6 linked regions of the Homo sapiens genome follow. The protein of the gene in region 2 interacts with the protein of the main gene of each other region in a pairwise test. Each region holds a gene or a part of one and is shown on either strand. Other genes may lie near its edges. The genes, in order: RSPH1, JPH1, PLP1, UACA, EMP1 and TMEM120B.

Region 1 (3,500 bases), on a different chromosome or scaffold from region 2:
ACCATTCTTAAGTGTCAACACCCAGCAGAAAATACAAAATACAAATGTCACCACCACAATACCCACCTCAAATCACCAAATTGGGTAAAGTGTAACATGGATTAAGGAATGCTTTTGTGAACTCGTGGCTGATGGGATTGGAACTTATATGCCCTGTTTTGTTTACTTTTGGAAACTTTAACCACATTTTACTTTTTTATAAAAGTGATGTATTCATTTTCAGAAAACCTCAGTGAATCAGTATCCATAGGCAAACTAGCTACCGATGGAACTACTACTAATATTTTGATGCATTCTTTGTAACTTTGCTTCTAGTATACATGGTTAAATAAAAATCTGATCATAATTATACATACTAACTCATACTCTATTTTTACTGAGAAATATGGCATGAACTACTTCCCGTATTTACAAATATTCTTTCCTAATAACAGTTGCCACCTGGTACTTTATTTCATCTATGGATTGCAACCTATTTTACTCAGTTACTATTGTTGGTATTTGGGATACTGATTTTTTTTTTTTTTTTACAAAGAACGCTCCAGCAAACGTACTCTGAGTTAAAACTTTATGTACGCTTTTGATACCATCCTTAAATTCTCAGAATTTCTGGACAAAAGCATACATGTGCTTTGATTAGATGAGGCTCTAATCGTTTCATTCCCATAACTGCACTTAAGAGTCCCAGATCCTCAAACTCTTGATTTTAGGAGTGTAAAAATGGTCTATTTTTACATGTTTTTTTATATAAAACAACAGGGTCTCACAATTTTAATTCACTTCATTTCAGTTGTTAGTAAGCCTGCATTTTTTTCAAGATTTTTAGCCATTTAAATCACATTGATTGATAAAACACTTTATATATTAAATGTTGCAAATATTCTCTCCCCATTTAACAGTCATCTCTTAGATTTTCTTTACAGCATTTTCTAATCTATAAGAAGTTATTTTTATAAAGCTAAACCTATTGGTTTTTCCTTTCTATTTCTGTTTAGAAAGTTCTCTTTCCTCATTTCAAGGTTAATATTCATCTACATTTTTTTTCTATATTTCCTAGGGTACATTTAAATCTTTACTTCTTCTAGAAAGTATCTTCATCTGTGTGAAGGCAAAACTATTATTTTCCTCCCAAATAATTGTCAAGTGTTCCTAGCACTATGTCTTGACTCCTCCCATCATCCCTTTGTTAATTTGACACGCTTATTGTGTGTGAAATTATTTTATATACTGGGAACTGTCTCTGGACTTCCTAATTTGCTTCATTGGTGTGTGTGTGTGTGTGTATCCTGGTATCACACTGTTTTAATTATTGAAGTTTTGTGGTATTGATAACTTGTCCACAAGGACATGTACAGGGAATTTTCTGAGGAAGAAACACAAACCAGCAATAAACATGTGACAAGATGTTTGACCTCACTAGTAATCAGGGAAGTACACATTAAAACAATGAGATGACATTTTTTACCCATAAGATTGGAAAAGAACAAAAACAACATTAAAGACTGAGAATATCCAACATCGATGAGAATATATGATAAACAGACTCATATTCTATTGGCAAGAGTATAAACTGACACCACTTTTTAGGAAAATGGGCACTACCGATTGTGATTCTAAATGCCAATCCTCAAAGGTTTCACAATTCCATTATCTAACCTACACAATAGTCCCAAATGTGCAAAATGACAAATATGTATCTTTATGTATATTTTTGTATCCTGACACAGTATGATCCTAATTATGTAATTAAAACCCCCAAACAATAATTCTGTGTCAGATGACTGTATTAGAATGTGCTTACATGACACACAGAAATAGTGTGGAAGGATTGGGCCCAGGGTGGTGGGGCAGGATCCTAGTGTTTAAATGCTTTACAATTGGAATGTACTTGTGTATTATTTGTATAATTTAAAGTTTTTTACTAACTAGCAAAACAAAGCCTCCATTTTTACCCCGATTTTTCAGACTGGTTTAGGCTGGACAAGCTGATTGATTCTTCCAGATTCATTTTCATCAAATTCTCTTCCTCTGCAACCACCTTCCCATCTCCTCCAAAAAGACCCACAGAAAGTTTGCTGGGAATTATATAAACAATGTATGGGTTTGAGGGGAATGTGCTGTTTTGATGAAGACTAAAAGTAAAATCTGTGGTTAGGGCATGAATTATACGTAAATGAAAACTGGGTTCTAAGAGAGTCTGAAGAGACTTCGTTGTATCAGCTAAACATTCCCTCTGTCAACTTCTAACACCATCAATTTGCTCCGCAAATTCTCTCTTCAGGGAAAGTTTCTGCTCAACCCCTGATCAAAGCTACCACGATGGCCTGAGTATTAGCTTCTGAATTATTCAAGGTTTCTCTGTACAATAAGGGCAAGAGGAACCACCGAGTCTTCCAAACAGAAACGGCCCACCATGGGTGCTAGAAGCTGGCAAGCCTCCAGACGCAGGGCCAGGCCCTTGGCAGCCTTAATTCCCACCACAACTAGGAGCACGCAGGCTGGCCTGTAGCATGAGGAGGGAGCTGGGGGTCTTCCTCCCCAGGGATGTCGCACCTCCCCTTCCAGGGAAACAAAACCCAAACACCTCTATGCTCAATTGCAGGAAATAGATATTTGGTATCTGATTTACCCATGAGAAGGAATACACACAAGAGGTTCAGATGCCCTCTCGTGTTATATAACAATGCAACAGGTCCCCGCTGAAAGACAGTGGGAATTTGTACTGAGATCCAGAGAAACGGGCCAATCCCTCCCTTCCCCCAATTCTGTGCTCTGTGGGTACCAGAGGCTCAGAGAATGGCACAGCTGTCCTGTTCTCCACATTTGAATAGGCCGGACTCAGTTTTCTCTGAGTTTTTGGTATTCTCTGGTCACACATTTGCACAGGCTGCCAGAGGGGGTTATTTTGTACTTCATTGGCAAATGTCACTTCCCATGGACTTACATTTTTGTTCAAGAACTTGCCCTGGTACCTGTGGTTCAGGTGAATGAGCTCGGCCGTGCCCTCCTGCTGTCCGTTCACCCAGGTGCCAACATACTTACTGCCCGTCTCCGCGTATAAATAGGTGCCTTGCCCATGCCTGGTTAAGACAAGGGGAACATGGTATTTCGTTCCAGCACAGTGAAAAATCTCCCAGGTTTAAAACACAGACATTGACATTGAGGGAGGCCCAGGCTGTTGCAGGCTCACAAGCGATGTAGCTTCTATATCTGTGTCCAGTCAGAAGGTGCCCCTTGCTCAGTGTGCCCCAAGCACAGGACATTGCCAGAGGCACAGAGGACAGGCCAGCTGGACAGAGGCAAGCCTCCTGTGTGTCAGCTGCTTTCCCCAGGGAAGAGGCAGAGCTAGTGGGAGCTGTGGCTCAGGTCCCCCAGTGGCTCTTCTGTGCCCTCCACTCCCTGGGACTCTTGGGTGAAAGACTCACGTGCTCTGCCCCAACTGAGGTGCAGATGTCAGATACTTGAGTCTACACTTGCACAGAAAGGCATCCTTGCCTCAA
Region 2 (3,500 bases):
CTCAAAAAATTATCTTTTTTTCCTTTAAGAGATTGTCACTCATATTTAAAACTGTAAGGAATTTTCTGCTAGAAGAGTTACTATGGTTTATGTGAAATCTAAAGCTTCTCTAGCTAGAAACACAAGAGAAGAACAAAGTTTAATTAAGTATTAACAGCAAAGTTTAATTATATATATTTACCTCTTTCGGGGGTGAGGTTCAAACCCAATTTGATGGGGACGCTTTAAATTTTACACAAATTCAAAAGAAAGATTAGATGAACCTCAAAACAAACTTGGATGCAAATCACAGGAATGGCTGAGAAAAAAGTGTAGTCATTTTTCAGAATGGGCTGAGATACCTAATTGGAAAATTCCCCTCTTGTCTACTTGATGGTAAGACGCTAAAGATGCCTCTTCTGACCCTACCAGAGTTGTCATGTTGCAAAACTCTACAAAAATTTCGGGATCACATTGAATGCGTGCCCCTAGGACATGAGTCCATACGCAACCATTGCCCACAGGGGTCACAAAAGTTTCTTGAGGAAAATCTTCCTCAAGAAAGTAATCAATGCCACAGCCTCCCTTCTCCTACCTCTCATACTCGAGTTAACTAATTTCCTGTGTTAGTCTCCATCCCAGGAGATTTTCTGTATTTCTAGGAGATCAATAGCCAGGGTGATCCTGAGGATGGATCAGATCTACTTGAATATTTCTGAACTGCTTATGCTTCAGTTAGCATTGTGTTGAAACAAACATCATAATAGCCAAGGTTTTTTGAGCATTTATTCTGCGCTAGGCACTATGCTAAGAACTTTTAAAGTATTGACTCATTTAATCTTCACAACAACCCTGTGATAGGTACAGATGAGGAAACCAAGGCACAGAGCAGTTAGGAAACTGTCCAGGGTCACACAGCTGGTAAGCAACAGAGCTGGGATGTGAACCGAGGAAGTTCAGCAACAGAGTTCAATTCTGTGAATTTTAAAATTATTCACGAATGTCTAACTTATACAGTGTCTTTCTCTCAAAACTATGTAGTACTCCATTATCTTAAAGGTCATCCACTGACAACATTTATGATGACTGTGCCACTTCCTAACTCTGAGGAGTGGGGACGGCAGCGTTCTGTTACTATTGGGAAGACAATGTTAATTATTAGAATCTTCGCGTGAAGGTGTCAAGTCGGTCTTGAATTTTGCAGAGGCAGTCTAAAGCTCAGGGTAGCTGCGGAGCTGCTGGGGCTTCCCTTCCCCCTTGGGGTGTAGAGGGGTACCCTAAGGACCAACTACTGAGATGGAGGATGCTTGTCTAACTCCAAGAATCTGAGAATTCCGCAAATAAGTAAAACAGATGTTTTTTCTAAATGAGGAGGCTGTGAATTTACCAAACATACGTATACTACTGTTTTACAGAGAGACTCTTTCAGCTAAGAGCTGGGTAATTCAACTTTTTTTTCCCCCTATCACAGCCTAATGTATAGGACGCTGGGGCATACACTTCCCCTTGTAGAAGTCTAGAAGTCAACTAAAGCCCACAAATGGGTACCCAAAGGTATAAAAGGTATGGCCTTGCATTGTTTGAATTTTTCCCTGTGTAAATCAGGCAAACTAACACTGATATATGCGAGGCCTTATTAACCTGGGGATAAACATGCTGAAAGTCAAATGAGAAGTAAGCTATTACATTTAACAAATTCAATAGTGATTATTATAGTTGTAATGTCAAGATACTGTCATATTAAGGTTTAAAATCTTTAAAATGAATGCTTACTGAAGAGTCAGAATCTTAAAGTTAGTCTGTTTTGAAAACAATTTTTCTCCATGCAGGTGGACTCCTAGGAAGTTGGTCCAGTTAATCTGAATAATTTATGTTTAGCTAATTAAAAAGTTGAAAATTTGAAAAAAGAAGAGAACCAGTGTTTTATAGATATTAGCAAAATAAACACACAAGAAATTTTAAGCATAAGTTAACAGAGGAATTTTAATTGTTTAATCCTGTGAGTAAATCAAACAGACAAAAATAAGAAACTGATGGCTGTACTATATTCTTGTTGGCCAAGATATTAATCCACACCATTATGCAAATATGTCTCTATAATTTCTAGTGAATACTAGGTGTGTAACTTTCAACACCTCTGTTCTAAAGGGATGTGATCAGGTCAAGAGGTCATTTTTTAATCAATAATTAGCTTCAGATTTTATAAATACTATAGCATTTGATAAAACACTAATTCCATACATTATTCAAAAAATCTCCTTTTAAAGAAGGTATAAAGATTTTTCAATAACACAGAGCTTTTCTGGCTGAATAATAAATAAATATCTTAAATGCTTAAGACTAATTGATACTAATAACCTGCATCTACCAGAAAACTGAAATTGTAAGAGTTCTCACACTTTGAAAAGACAGAAGACCAAAGAAATTCTCTTGAACTGTTGGAAATTTTCAGTTCTCTTTTGGGAAAGAAAAATGTTCTAGCTGCAAAGCCTGGCTAATTAAAGTCCAAACTACGTATGTATGAGAAGAATTCACAACGGCTAGAGGAGACGTTCTTTTGTGTAAAGATGCTGACCGCTGTGGTGAAAACAGGAGAACTAAGAACTTGTTGGTGCCCTTTTCCTAGAGCTCTGAGAGCGGCTGGCCCTTGGCAGGGGTCATGATTCCTTTCCAGCAATCAGAGAGCAAGCTACCAGGAAGCTCACCAAGACACGCTGTTAAAGCCTTGCTAAAATGTGCTAAGATGCTGTGCTAAGCTGGTCAGGTCTTACCTACCTGAATTACATCTAAAGTGGGGCTGGGTGAACATAGGGGTGGTGGGGGGAATTTCTGCCCAGAGAGCTCTTTGCTGTCTCAAGCTACCAATGTGTTATGTGCTGCTCTAAACAACCCTGTGCTTCTAGAACCTTGGTTAGCCTGGCTGTGATCAAGATGCACAGTCACCCCACACAGCTCGCTGAAAGAAACAAAGGGAAGAAAGAAAGAGAAAACGCTACTTGCAGTACTTACTGAATTGGCTTCTTTTTCCAAAGCAGGGCATGAATCGTTGCTTGCTGGATTCTTTGGTATAGCAAGTTCAGACTTCTTAGCTTTTGGCTCAGCTTTGCTTTCTTTGGCAACTGGTTTTGTCACAGATTTGGAGGGACTCCACTTGTTAGCGGATGGCTTGTGCACCAGTGCTGAGGAAGACTGGCTGGATCCATCGCCGTCCTCCACGTCTACTGGAGGGTGCTGGGGGGCGTTCAGCTTCACGTAGTAGCCGTGATACTGAGAATGCAGCTCCCCGTTACTGGGGTTGGGGATGTGGTGGCGGCCAGAGTACTTGGACTGGGGCACAACCGCTCCTGCCTCCTTCGTGGGAGCCTTTGACATCAAGGGCTTATTGACAATGGCCGTCACCTGCTCATCAGCCACACTCCTTTTGTCTTGGTTGAGTCTCGCCCCTGAGCTGGGGTTTTGCTTCTTCAGGGGCTTTGGGGAGGAAGCAGGAGAGTGGCTGTGTTTGGGACTTGCCTCAGGAG
Region 3 (3,140 bases), on a different chromosome or scaffold from region 2:
AAGGCACTGAAGGGTGAAGTGATTTATCTGAAGTTATTTTATAAGCAGTGATCAGACAAGATGAGCTCACAGAACTCCTGGCCCCTACTGCTGAGGTTTCCATACAGAGTCAAGTAATTTCTCACCTTGTAAAACGAATTGATTCATTAACCAGGGGAGAGCTCTACTGCATGATGTGGCTGTGTGTCTACAGCAAGCACCCTATGACTCTAAGTCACTCGGACATATTGATGTGGCAAAGCCCAAATATTGTTCACTTCCCTGAGGAAAACTCAGTGCTAGATCAAACAGAGGTGTGGAATAAATCTTTATGATTTGATTCTCTGGGCCTGGGCCATGAGACCCATGATGCCTCAGAGACATCGGACTTCCAGTCAAGTGTATATGGAGAAAGCCAAGCCTGGGATGTACTGCTTTTTGCAGAGCATGGGTTTTTCCCTTATTTAGTTATGATTTTATTTCTACCCTTCCTCATTCCCAAAGGGATTTGAGGAGGGAGTGCTTTCTTTTCTACTCTCATTCACATTCTCTCTTCTGTTCCCTACAGCTCACCTTCATGATTGCTGCCACTTACAACTTTGCCGTCCTTAAACTCATGGGCCGAGGCACCAAGTTCTGATCCCCCGTAGAAATCCCCCTTTCTCTAATAGCGAGGCTCTAACCACACAGCCTACAATGCTGCGTCTCCCATCTTAACTCTTTGCCTTTGCCACCAACTGGCCCTCTTCTTACTTGATGAGTGTAACAAGAAAGGAGAGTCTTGCAGTGATTAAGGTCTCTCTTTGGACTCTCCCCTCTTATGTACCTCTTTTAGTCATTTTGCTTCATAGCTGGTTCCTGCTAGAAATGGGAAATGCCTAAGAAGATGACTTCCCAACTGCAAGTCACAAAGGAATGGAGGCTCTAATTGAATTTTCAAGCATCTCCTGAGGATCAGAAAGTAATTTCTTCTCAAAGGGTACTTCCACTGATGGAAACAAAGTGGAAGGAAAGATGCTCAGGTACAGAGAAGGAATGTCTTTGGTCCTCTTGCCATCTATAGGGGCCAAATATATTCTCTTTGGTGTACAAAATGGAATTCATTCTGGTCTCTCTATTACCACTGAAGATAGAAGAAAAAAGAATGTCAGAAAAACAATAAGAGCGTTTGCCCAAATCTGCCTATTGCAGCTGGGAGAAGGGGGTCAAAGCAAGGATCTTTCACCCACAGAAAGAGAGCACTGACCCCGATGGCGATGGACTACTGAAGCCCTAACTCAGCCAACCTTACTTACAGCATAAGGGAGCGTAGAATCTGTGTAGACGAAGGGGGCATCTGGCCTTACACCTCGTTAGGGAAGAGAAACAGGGTGTTGTCAGCATCTTCTCACTCCCTTCTCCTTGATAACAGCTACCATGACAACCCTGTGGTTTCCAAGGAGCTGAGAATAGAAGGAAACTAGCTTACATGAGAACAGACTGGCCTGAGGAGCAGCAGTTGCTGGTGGCTAATGGTGTAACCTGAGATGGCCCTCTGGTAGACACAGGATAGATAACTCTTTGGATAGCATGTCTTTTTTTCTGTTAATTAGTTGTGTACTCTGGCCTCTGTCATATCTTCACAATGGTGCTCATTTCATGGGGTATTATCCATTCAGTCATCGTAGGTGATTTGAAGGTCTTGATTTGTTTTAGAATGATGCACATTTCATGTATTCCAGTTTGTTTATTACTTATTTGGGGTTGCATCAGAAATGTCTGGAGAATAATTCTTTGATTATGACTGTTTTTTAAACTAGGAAAATTGGACATTAAGCATCACAAATGATATTAAAAATTGGCTAGTTGAATCTATTGGGATTTTCTACAAGTATTCTGCCTTTGCAGAAACAGATTTGGTGAATTTGAATCTCAATTTGAGTAATCTGATCGTTCTTTCTAGCTAATGGAAAATGATTTTACTTAGCAATGTTATCTTGGTGTGTTAAGAGTTAGGTTTAACATAAAGGTTATTTTCTCCTGATATAGATCACATAACAGAATGCACCAGTCATCAGCTATTCAGTTGGTAAGCTTCCAGGAAAAAGGACAGGCAGAAAGAGTTTGAGACCTGAATAGCTCCCAGATTTCAGTCTTTTCCTGTTTTTGTTAACTTTGGGTTAAAAAAAAAAAAAGTCTGATTGGTTTTAATTGAAGGAAAGATTTGTACTACAGTTCTTTTGTTGTAAAGAGTTGTGTTGTTCTTTTCCCCCAAAGTGGTTTCAGCAATATTTAAGGAGATGTAAGAGCTTTACAAAAAGACACTTGATACTTGTTTTCAAACCAGTATACAAGATAAGCTTCCAGGCTGCATAGAAGGAGGAGAGGGAAAATGTTTTGTAAGAAACCAATCAAGATAAAGGACAGTGAAGTAATCCGTACCTTGTGTTTTGTTTTGATTTAATAACATAACAAATAACCAACCCTTCCCTGAAAACCTCACATGCATACATACACATATATACACACACAAAGAGAGTTAATCAACTGAAAGTGTTTCCTTCATTTCTGATATAGAATTGCAATTTTAACACACATAAAGGATAAACTTTTAGAAACTTATCTTACAAAGTGTATTTTATAAAATTAAAGAAAATAAAATTAAGAATGTTCTCAATCAAACATCGTGTCCTTTGAGTGAATTGTTCTATTTGACTTCACAATAGAAACTTAATAATCGTACCTTGTTCAAGGAGATCATTCATTTTTCAGCTCATCCAAGTCATTCTCATAACATTTCTCTGAAATAAATAGTATATGAATAGATTACTTCTACTTTTATAGTTGAAGACACTAAGAAATAGAAGCAAAGTAATTTGCCCAAAGAAATCCAGTAAGTACATGTCTGAGCTTGTGTTAAAACGCAGATATTGAAACCAATTTATTGCCTACTTAAAGGTTTCTTTTCTCTTCGAAGTTGGGTTTCAGAATGTTCAGAGTCAACTATGGTTACTTTTTCAATACCTTAGTGGTGCCCCAGTCCCCGGTGCATTTAGATTTAAGTTATTGTTACCTTCTCTTTAAATTGTTTGGATATTCCAGTAATGATCCCTTAGTAATTCATACGTGACTAATATTTAGTTTTATTTGGATAGTACTGGATGGAAGGTTTAGTACTTAAA
Region 4 (3,500 bases), on a different chromosome or scaffold from region 2:
TCTCTAATACAGATTTTCTGCTATTTCCCCACTTGAACTTCCTATTCACTGTCCCTCAATAATCTTCTCTAATAATTGCAATAAACTTTAAGATTCTAGTTTATCTCTGATTTGCTCAAAAGAGAGTAGCTAAGATCCCTTGTTCTATCATATCATTCATTCTTTTTCATTAGTTTCCCCTCCATTTCCTATAGAAGAGGCAGGTCTATTGATTTTAAGAATTTGATATCATAAAGTATCTTTCTTTTTATTATTTTATCTAGTTCTCTTTTTAAAATTGTTCTTTTTTTGAAGCTTTCTCTCAACATCCATCTTTCCCTTCTTCATTTTTTGTTTGTTTTTTTTTTTTTTTTTTTTTTTTTTTGCTTGTTTTTACAGTGTGGCCTAACATACTTCAAATCCAAATAATTCCCAGGATCTCTGTCATTCTAAAATTTGTTTCTTTTAGTACATTTTCTTCCTGAAAAAAAATCTATTCTGAGAATTTTGAAGATGCTGCTCACGGGGTTTCTACAGGAAATTAAGCATAGTATCCTTTATATGTTAGTAATTTCTTAGTATGATTTTAACAATAACTTTCTCAGTACACCCCTAAAAAAGGGAATTCATACTGTTATTCCTTAATTAATCCTTGGCTTTACCAAGCCAAGTTAAGGCTTGGTAAAACAGATCATTTTTAATTACTACAATCCTATACACATAACACCCTGCTTGTCACTTTTGTACTTTTCTAGTATTCAAAGCCATTCCCACTCTCCTCTTAGATGACAGCCACACGTGGATGTCAAGGCATTATCTCCAGCTAGCAACACCATTAACGTGTGCTACCATCACATGTTACCAAACTGTCTATAAACTGAGTGACAAGCAGATGGAGACGACACTAAATTTAAGATGTTGTGTTGCCATATAGCTTTGTAAATTTTTCTGGGAGATCCACAAACAATGATTAAAAGAAACATAATTATTTTTAAATAAGCATAGGGGGTGCAGCTACTTTAAACATCAATTACTTTCACATAAATTTATTTGAAAATAAAAAATTATTATCTCTAAAGCAATATTCTTTCCAAAGGAGAAGTAGTTCTTTACCTGTGCAGCACTAAGAAGGTGTGTCCGATAAATTGCAATTACTTCTTGGTGCTGTCTGTCAGCATCCTAGAAATGTGGAAAGATGGACAGATGTGACTATCAGCGTTCACATTTCCAAACTTTGGACAATGCTCAGGCTTCATGCTACAAAACTATTATTATTATTAAGGCGATCCTGCTACTTCTAACAACAAACTACCTTGGACCTACCAGATGCAGAATTTCAAAACGTAACAATATAAACTTCTGTAAAGAATGTGTGGCTAATGACAGTAATGCTACTTTCCCTAAGCAACATCAAATTATTGCTTTAGTTCATATCTAGTGCCATGAACTTCTGAAGACACTTATCACATGTCTGGATTATTGCAAACGCTTCCCATCCTGTCTTACTATCTCCACACTATATTCCTTACCATGCCTCTGAGACTAAGGTACCTATTTCCTCACATCACTTTTGGCTCAAAAACCTTGAGTGACACTTCTTTACATACATGAGAGAATCCAAATTCATCAGTTTGGTTCTCAATGACTTCCACAGTTTGGCTTCAAACATTAACTTTCAAATACAGCAGTCCCCTCTTATTGGCAGTTTTGCGATGAGCAGTTTCACTTTCTCTATTTCTGTTGCCCATGGTATAATACAATATTTTGAGATATAGAGAGAGACCACATTCACATAACTTTTATTACAACATATTGTTATAATTGTTCTATTTTATTATGTTGTTATTAATCTCTTACTGTGCCCAATTTATAAATTACTCTTTATCACAGGTATGTATATCTGGGGGGAAAACATAGCTTATATAGGGTTCATTCAGCAGGTCCTATCCATGGTTTCAGGCATCCACTGGGGATCTTGGAACATACCCTCAGTGGATAAGAGAGGGACTACTCTACAGGCAGGGCTTTTACTGCCCTCTGGCCATGCCACTTGTATTCCATCTCCACGCTTCTTTTACACTATTTTCTTTAGATGGAAGAGCCTCTACTTTCCTTTCACCTACCAAAATAGCATCTACGTTACAAGTTCAAGCCAGGTACTCCCTTCTTTAAAAACTAGCTTCTACCACACCACTAATCTTTCCTTCCTGGAAACCCCTATCACTTAGAATCTGCATTCTCAGTTCTACATTTGACATCTCTCATCTTGTGATTTTTACTTTTTATGAATCTGTATTTTGCCTCTCTAACTACCCAGAACTCCTTGGGGACAGGAATGGCATACTTTCTTTATCCCACTTAGCACAGGGTCATGAACATAATAAACAATAAACAAATATTTCCAATTATTAAAGGGACACTATACTCTTTGGATAAGATCCAAATCCACAATTTGCCATCCTTAATCTGTAGGCCTACAGTGTTAAAAAATAAACACTAAAAAAGAAACAAAACAAAAAACCTTTCTTCTATTAAAAAATAACTCAAACAATTCTATGAAATAGGGAAACATCAGCAACAATTTACATGTGACTGGGCCGTTTTACTTAGCATTTCAATGTGTATTAGTGCATAATTAAAAGCATAGTCCCAGATACTCAGGAAGCTGAGGCAGTAGGATCACTTGAGCCCAGGAGATCAGCCTATAGCAAGACCCCATTGGAGACAAGCCTAAGCCACATAGAAGACCCCATCTTTTGACAAAATTCAACAACTTTTCATGCTAAAAACTCTCAATAAATTAGGTATTGATGGGACGTATCTCAAAATAATAAGAGCTATCTATGACAAACCCACAGCCAATATCATACTGAATGGGCAAAAACTGGAAGCATTCCCTTTGAAAACTGGCACAAGACAGGGATGCCCTCTCTCGCCACTCCTATTCAACATAGTATTGGAAGTTCTGGCCAGGGCAATCAGGCAGGAGAAGGAAATAAAAGGTATTCAATTAGGAAAAGAGGAAGTCAAATTGTCCCTGTTTGCAGATGACATCATTGTATATCTAGAAAACCCCATCATCTCAGCCCAAAATCTTCTTAAGCTGATAAGCAACTTGAGCAAAGTCTCAGGGTACAAAATCAATGTGCAAAAATCACAAGCATTCTTATACACCAATAACAGACAAACAGAGAGCCAAATCATGAGTGAACTCCCATTCACGATTGCTTCAAAGAGAATAAAATACCTAGGAATCCAACTTACAAGAGATGTGAAGGACCTCTTCATGGCAAACTACAAACCACTGCTCAATGAAATAAAAGAGGATACAAACAAATGGGAGAACATTCCATGCTCATGGGTAGGAAGAATCAATGTCATGAAAATGGCTATACTGCCCAAGGTAATTTATAGATTCAATGCCATCCCCATCAAGCTACCAATGACTTTCTTCACAGAATTGGAAAAAACTACTTTAAAGTTCATATGGAACCAAAAAAGAGCCTGCATCGCCAAGTCAA
Region 5 (3,500 bases), on a different chromosome or scaffold from region 2:
ATTCCCCTTAGCAGGCCAACTCTAATTTTATTAAAGTTCCTTAAATCAAGCAAAATCAACTTCCTTATAACTTCCTGATTCTGCTGGCCTGAAACAACTCAGAAAATATCTATTCTGGTTTTGTTGTTGCTCCACCCAATGATTCTCATCCTCTAAACACTTAACGCCTATTTAATATTTAATGAATACAACTTGATGGATCTACATTGCATTATCTTTTCTTCTTCTTCTTCTTCTTCTTTTTTTTTTTTTTTTTGCCTAAGGCTCAGAAGGGCAGGGAGCATTTTTGAAGTTTGGAATTATGTACATAGTCAATCATACTCACGGGGTTTTTGATTTGGAGGTATTTAATTTTCTAAATGCATGAATATGGTTCCTTCTTTAACCTCCCACATGTATGTACATAGCTGCCTAACACAAAAGCTCAGGCCTATTTGGGACTCTCAGATGTACATACTCGGAGGGACACACCCAGTGTTGCTACCTACTAGGTCATGGTTAGATCAATCCAATACCAGGACACAGGCTTCTAGCTAGGCCTTTTGGGGATTGTCCCATAATTTGGTCCATAGTTCATGTAGCCCACACCTATACATTGTCACCACCCATCATAGTAATTACGGGAACAGGCTGCCCATCAAATGTAGCCTCCTTGTAATTGCTGGCCAGCAATCTGGGTATCAGCCCCTTGAGAAGAGCTCCTAACCCTTAACCAGCGTAGAACGGGAATTTTCTCACCATAAGCTTCCCTTTTCTAATACTCTTCCCAGATCCGCCCAGGTGATCTTGAATTTCTGGACTGCACTTGCTATTCAGTAATCAAGGAAGCCCAAATATGGTTCCAGTTAGGGGTTTACTTGAATCTTCAGCACCCAGCCCCGACATACACACGTCCTGAGACTGCTCTTTGCAACAATTCAGTCCCTGGTGTCCTGCCTGGGTAAAACCATTTCCTTCAATTTACCTGGGAGATTCACTGATACTAAAGCAGAAAGATGAAAGCACAAACACCTGTGGTGATTGCTGCTTCTCTCTTCCTTTTTAACAAAATGTTTGGGTCAAGGTTTTCTTTTGTGTTGTGGAGATGGCATTTCCCTGGAACTGCAATGGAATCCTCTGCTGTTGGTGCGCTTGGACTTACGTGGCTGTGACAGTTTTTCTATTTGCTGAGCCTGTTTCATGAATTGTTTCTTCAAACCGGGTAGTTAAACTAGAGAGCCCTTTCAGCACAGGTTGAAAGCGTGGCAAGAATCCTGGAGCAGATGTAAGACAGCTGACTAGGAAGACAGAGGGGCAGTGGTGTTATCTTGACGCTGCCATGTAACCACAGGCGAGACACTTGTCTTCTTGCTTTCGGAAGTTGAACTTGGTGGTTCTTTCAGACCCCTTATGGCTCTGAGATTCTAAGATTCACCCAGGCGTGGTAATCCCAGCTACTTGGGAGACTGAGGTGGGAGGATCACTTGAACCTAGGAGTTTGAGACCAGTCTGGGCAACATAGTGAGACCCTGTCTCTAAAAGAAGAATTTTAAAAAGCAGGGTGTGGTAGTGCATGCCTGTAGTCCCAGCTACTTGGGAAGCTGAGGCAGGAGGATTGATTGAGCCCCAGGGCTTTGAGGCTGTAGTCAGCTATGATTGTACCATTGCACTCCAGCCTGAGCAATGAAACAACACCCTGTCTCAAAAAAAACAAAAACAAAACAAACCAACAAACAAAAACACCAAAAAAACGAAAAACAAAAAAATTAAGATCCTACCATTTCTATTTTGAGATATCCCTTGCGCTGATGCTAGCAGCTGGCTTAATCTGTAAAAATTGATAGAAAAGTGAAATAGGGCAACGTGTGGCATTGAAAAGGGCATTTTGCAGAGGATTCTCGTCTCCTGGGTGCCTTGAGGACCCACGGAGCCTCCTCTGCCCCATCCACTCACAGATTCTTTAGGTATGGTGTTCCCCGGACTTACCCTCAGCCATGAGCATTCACTCGGCACTAGGAATAAAAGAAAGAGGTTTGAGTAATTAAACGTAAAGGGTGCCAGCTCAGATGAGGAGGGCAGGCTGAGTCTGTGAAGACATTGACAACAGCAAAGCATTCACCAGGAACAGAATCAGGCTCAGGGAGAAACTGAGCTGGCTCTGGGAAAGAAACTCCACCCTCTTCTTGAGGAGGGAGACCCTGCAGCATGAAGGTGTGGTGTACAGGTGTGGACAGGAGCAAATGAGGAACAGTTTGAGAGGAGGAAGAGGAAGGTGCAACTAGGACAGGAGGGAGGGAGGGAGGGCAAGTGGGATGCTGTTTCCCAGGCCTGTGTGTTGAGGGAGGAGGCAGGCAGAAAGACCTAGAAGCAGGAGAAAAAGCTAAGTGGATAGAGAAAGACAGAAAGGGGGCAAAAGAGCAAGGGAGAAGTGATGAGGATGTTTCCCCTTCCATCCTTCCACTCTTGTTTGGGGACCACCCACCCTCAATGTTTCAAGGCAGTCCTTCGGTCAAAATTCGATTCTTTGTCCCCTGTGAAGAATCTTTTGTCGCATTGGCTACTTCTTGTTTTTTCAGGATGGTTGACACCTCTTTGGTATCATTTTAGTTTCCACTACATGTGCCCACCAGGCTGGAACCTCTTCAATGTTTCTCCTCTTCCAGGTCAGATCAGAGCTGAGAGCAAAACGGGGTTCTTGATCCTTAGACTTCTCATTTCAAAGAATCAAAGACCCTTCCCCAGGACGCTGGAGAAGGGGAGTTGGACAGAGGTTTGCAACCCTGAAACAACTAGTTTGGGGCAAGGCAGTGTGTTCACATTGATCTCAGAGAAAGCTCTGAAGCTGAGACCTGGAGCTTCCCTTTATTGAAAGATAGTCTCCATGTCTGGGTGGGGTGGGGACTCCTGTGCTGAGGGTTAGAAGGTTGCTCGGAGTTTGCAGGGGGATATTGTTCGGGTCTGTTTTGGCCAGGCAGGCTGGCTCTGCTGGGTGGGACTTCTCAGCAAAACGACAGGGAGAAGCAGTGGCCTCGGAAGACCCTGTGTTTTTATAATTGGCACAGTTTTAAGGGGTATATGCTGACTCTCTGATTAACTCAGAGAGGGTAGGAGGAAAAGAGAGAACAGTAGATCTGGTAGAAGTTCTAGAACTTCCACCAAACCCTAAGCCAAGAGACAGGAGAGAAAAAATCATGCCAGGTGGAAGAGCCCTGCCTGGAAGGTGCGAAATGGCTTCAGTTCTGATTCAATTCCATTTCTCCTTTGGGGACGTGCATTTCCTTCTTATCAAGGGGTTGGACTGAATGACCTCAATGCCTCTCAACCTCTAAAGAACGAATTGAAATGAAGCCCTGAGCCCACCTGATGGGTCTGGGGTGTCTCTAGGCGAGGGGCCTCCCCTCCCAGCTTGCCGCCTTCCAGGAGGCTGCAGCTTTGCTGGTTGAAGCATGTTGCCGCCATCTACTGTTGGTCCCACCCAAGCGCCGCTGGGGCCGGGCCACACCTAGGTTTTCTTCCCAAAC
Region 6 (3,500 bases), on a different chromosome or scaffold from region 2:
GAATTTCCATGATAGCACCAACTGTGGTCTTTATCACTCCTTTGCAAGTCTTTATACTTGGACTACATACAATGTATCATTAAGCAATATACTGTGTTGTTTTCAATGTTTTTGCCTTTATTGCAAGTGCCACATTGTACATACCCCTCTGCAACTTTCTGCAGGATGTTAACACAGGTAGCTCAGTTTATTCACTCTCCTGCTTCACCTCTCTCTGGGTGCTCAGTGTAATGATCCATTCCCACGGACGTTCAGGTTGCCAGTTTTTAGTTGTGTTATAAAAACTACTATGCATGGCTGCTACATGAATTTTTAACTGTGTGAATATGTATTACTTATAAAAATGTAGAATGGAGGCCGGGCACAGTGGCTTACGCCTCTAATCCCAGCACTGTGGGAGGCTGAGGTGAGCAGATCACAAGGTCAGGAGTTCGACACTAGCCTGATCAACATGGTAAAACCCCGTATCTACTACAAATAAAAAAATTAGCCTGCTGTGGTAGCACACGCCTGTAATACCAACTACTCAGGGGGCTGAGGCAGAAGAATCGCTTGAACCCGGGAGGCAGAGGTTGCAGTGAGCCGAGATCGTGCCACTGTATTCCAGCCTGGGCAACAGAGCGAGACTCTATCTCAAAAAAAAAAAAAAAAGGCCAGGTGTGGTGGCTCACGCCTATAATCCCAGCACTTTGAGAGGCCAAAGCGGGCGGATCACAAGGTCAAGAGATCGAGACCATCCTGGCCAACATGGTGAAACTCTACTAAAAATACAAAAATTAGCTGGGCATGGTGGCACATGCCTGTAGTCCCAGCTACTCAGGAGGCTGAGGCAGGAAAATCGCTTGAACCCGGGAGGCAGAGGTTGCAATGAGCTAAGATTGAGCCACTGCACTCCAGCCTGGGCGACAGAGCAAGACGCTGTCTCAAAAAAAAAAAAAAAAAAAAAAGTAGAACTGATTCCATTCAAAAAAAAAGGAGGGCCAGGGCTGAATGCAGTGGCTTATGCCTGTAATCCCAGCACTTTGGGAGGCTGGAGTGGGCGGATCACGAGGTTAGGAGTTCAAGACCAGCTTGGCCAACATGGTGAAACCCCATCTACTAAAAATACAAAAATTAGCTGGGCGTGGTGGTGCCTGCCTGCAATCCCAGCTACTCGGGAGACTGAGGCAGAAGAATTGCTTGAAACCAGAAGGCGGAGGTTGCAGTGAGCCAAGATGGCACCACTGCACTCCAGCCTGGGCAACAAGAGTGAAACTCTTGGTTGAAAAAAAAAAAGGAGGACCAGGCACTCATACCTATAGTCTCAGCACTTTGGGAGGCTGAGATGGGAGGAATGCTTGAGGCCAGAAGTTCAAGACCAGCCTGGGCAACATGACAAAACCCCATCTCTACAAAAATTACAAAACTTAGCCAAGTGTGGTGGTGTGTGCCTGTAGTCCCAGATACTCAGGAGGCTGAAGAGGGAGAATCACTTGAACCCAGGAAGTTGAAGCTGCAGTGATCCATGATGGGACCACTGCATTCCAGCCTGGGCGACAAAGTGAGACCCTCTCTTACAAAACAACAACAAAAAGGAGAACTGCTCACATGAGCTCTGTGAGCTGTCATGCCCAGAGCATCTTCCCTACTTGTCTAATTACCATCCTCCGCATGTAGAAGACACAAACAAGCAAGTTTCCTTTGGAAGATTCAGGGATCTCTGCCACCTCTGCTGTCCTCTGAGACCCAAGCTCTGCCCCAGTGGGAAGATGAGGTTAATGACTCCTGTTCCCAGTACAGATGTGAAACATCTGAAGACACCTCCTTAACACATCTTGGCTGTCGGAAGATCCAGGACTGGGGAGTCAACATGTGTTGCAGGAATTGCTAGAGGAATCTCACGGCATTTACAGACATGGTTCTGGCCCAGGAGCATCAGAAGTCGCTGGGCAGTCCAGTAGACTGCAATAGGGCCATACCGCCACTTAAGTGTGGTGCCTTAGAGCTGTGCCTCTTGCTGGTGGTAAACTTTCAAGAGATTCCTTTTTTTTTTCTTTTGAGACACAGTCTTACTCTGTCGCCCAGTCTGGAGTGCAGTGACACAATCATGGCTGCTCACCACAGCCTTCACCTCCCTGGGCTCAGGCGATCCTCCTCTCTCAACCACCCGAGTAGCTGAAACTACAGGCCTGTGCCACCATGCCTGGCTAATTTTTGTATTTTTTGTAGAGACAGGGGTTTTGCCATGTTGCCTAGGCTGGTCTCAAACTCCTGAGCTCAAATGACCTGCCTATCTTGGCCTCCCAAGGTGCTGGGATTACAGGCATGAGCCACTGTGCCTGGACAAGAGATTACTTTTATATAGCTCTAAGAAATCAACTTCAAATAGACTTTCAGACGCTGACTATACTTAACCAGGACTCATCACCATAGAAACACCACCAAGGATGACTTCGCCTAACGTGTATGCGTCCTGTGCGGGACAGATTCTGAGTCATGTGTCAGAATCCATGAACGGTATGTTACGGGAGCGGTAAGTGGGGGTCTGTGCGTGGGAGGCACGCATTTGGGTGGCATGAAAACACAATGGTTAAGTGATTTGATGCTGCCATCAAGTTGCCCGAGTTCAGATCCAGAGCCTGCCACTTATTAGCTGAGTTATGTAATCCCTCTGTGCCTCGGTGTCATCAGCTGTGAAAGAGCTAGGAGATGAGGTGCATGCAGCAGGCTAGGCACTGTCACAAAGATGTGACATCATCAAGAATGTAGTGTGGGCCGGGCAAGGTGGCTCATGCCTATAATCCCAGCACTCTGGGAGGCCGAGGTGGGCAGATCACCTGAGGTCAGGAGTTCGAGACCAGCTGGCCAACATGGTGAAACCCTGTCTCTACTAAAAATACAAAAATTAGCCAGGTGTGGTGGCATGTGCCTGTAGTCCTAGCTACAGCTACTCAGGAGGCTGAGGCAGGAGAATCACTTGAACCCGAGAGGCAGAGGTTGCAGTGAGCCGAGACAGAGCCATTGTACTCCAGCCTGGACAACAAGAGCAAAACTCCGTCTCAAAAAAAAAAGAATGCAGTGTGGCCTAACATGCAACTGTGAACCACCCCCTTAAACTACCCCCGTTAGCAATTTAAGCAGTGTCCAATCGATGCCACTGTTTCCCTTGAAGAAAAAAACATTTTTTGAGACAGGGTCTCACTCTGTCACCCAGGCTGGGGTGCAGTGGCAGGATCTCAGCTTACTGCAACCTCCACTTCCTGAACTTAGGTAATCCTCCCACTTCAGCCTCCCAAGTAGGTGGGACCATGGGTGCACGCCACCATGCCTAGCTAATTTTTGTGGTTTTTTGTAGAGTCAGGGTCTTACTACATTGCCCAGGCTGGTCTCAAACTCCTGGGCTCAAGCGATCTACCTGCCTCAGCCTCCTGTTGGGATTACAGGCATAGGCCACTACACCCAGCCAACAATTTCTATTAGCCCCCCAAAAGGTGCCTGTCCAGCATCCCTCTCTCTGTTTT

Evidence for each region.
Region 1: the proteins of JPH1 (region 2) and RSPH1 interact in a two-hybrid assay, tested with the Homo sapiens proteins (one large-scale study listed by BioGRID and IntAct).
Region 3: the proteins of JPH1 (region 2) and PLP1 interact in binary tests that used the Homo sapiens proteins (3 or more experiments, as listed by UniProt).
Region 4: the proteins of JPH1 (region 2) and UACA interact in a two-hybrid assay, tested with the Homo sapiens proteins (one large-scale study listed by BioGRID and IntAct).
Region 5: the proteins of JPH1 (region 2) and EMP1 interact in binary tests that used the Homo sapiens proteins (3 or more experiments, as listed by UniProt).
Region 6: the proteins of JPH1 (region 2) and TMEM120B interact in binary tests that used the Homo sapiens proteins (3 or more experiments, as listed by UniProt).

The regions. Positions count from the first base shown.
Region 1 is NC_000021.9:42,482,725-42,486,224, forward strand, and holds part of RSPH1 (radial spoke head 1 homolog), read right to left. Parts: intron 3,081-3,500; coding exon 2,945-3,080; intron 1-2,944.
Region 2 is NC_000008.11:74,241,541-74,245,040, forward strand, and holds part of JPH1 (junctophilin-1), read right to left. Parts: coding exon 2,989-3,500; intron 1-2,988. UniProt on the Homo sapiens protein: Junctophilins contribute to the formation of junctional membrane complexes (JMCs) which link the plasma membrane with the endoplasmic or sarcoplasmic reticulum in excitable cells.
Region 3 is NC_000023.11:103,789,980-103,793,119, forward strand, and holds the end of PLP1 (myelin proteolipid protein), read left to right. Parts: intron 1-547; coding exon 548-619; 3' UTR 620-2,640; downstream 2,641-3,140.
Region 4 is NC_000015.10:70,659,059-70,662,558, forward strand, and holds part of UACA (uveal autoantigen with coiled-coil domains and ankyrin repeats), read right to left. Parts: intron 1,159-3,500; coding exon 1,093-1,158; intron 1-1,092. UniProt on the Homo sapiens protein: Regulates APAF1 expression and plays an important role in the regulation of stress-induced apoptosis. Promotes apoptosis by regulating three pathways, apoptosome up-regulation, LGALS3/galectin-3 down-regulation and NF-kappa-B inactivation.
Region 5 is NC_000012.12:13,199,726-13,203,225, forward strand, and holds part of EMP1 (epithelial membrane protein 1), read left to right. Parts: intron 1-3,500.
Region 6 is NC_000012.12:121,719,252-121,722,751, reverse strand, and holds part of TMEM120B (transmembrane protein 120B), read right to left. Parts: intron 1-3,500. UniProt on the Homo sapiens protein: Necessary for efficient adipogenesis. Does not show ion channel activity.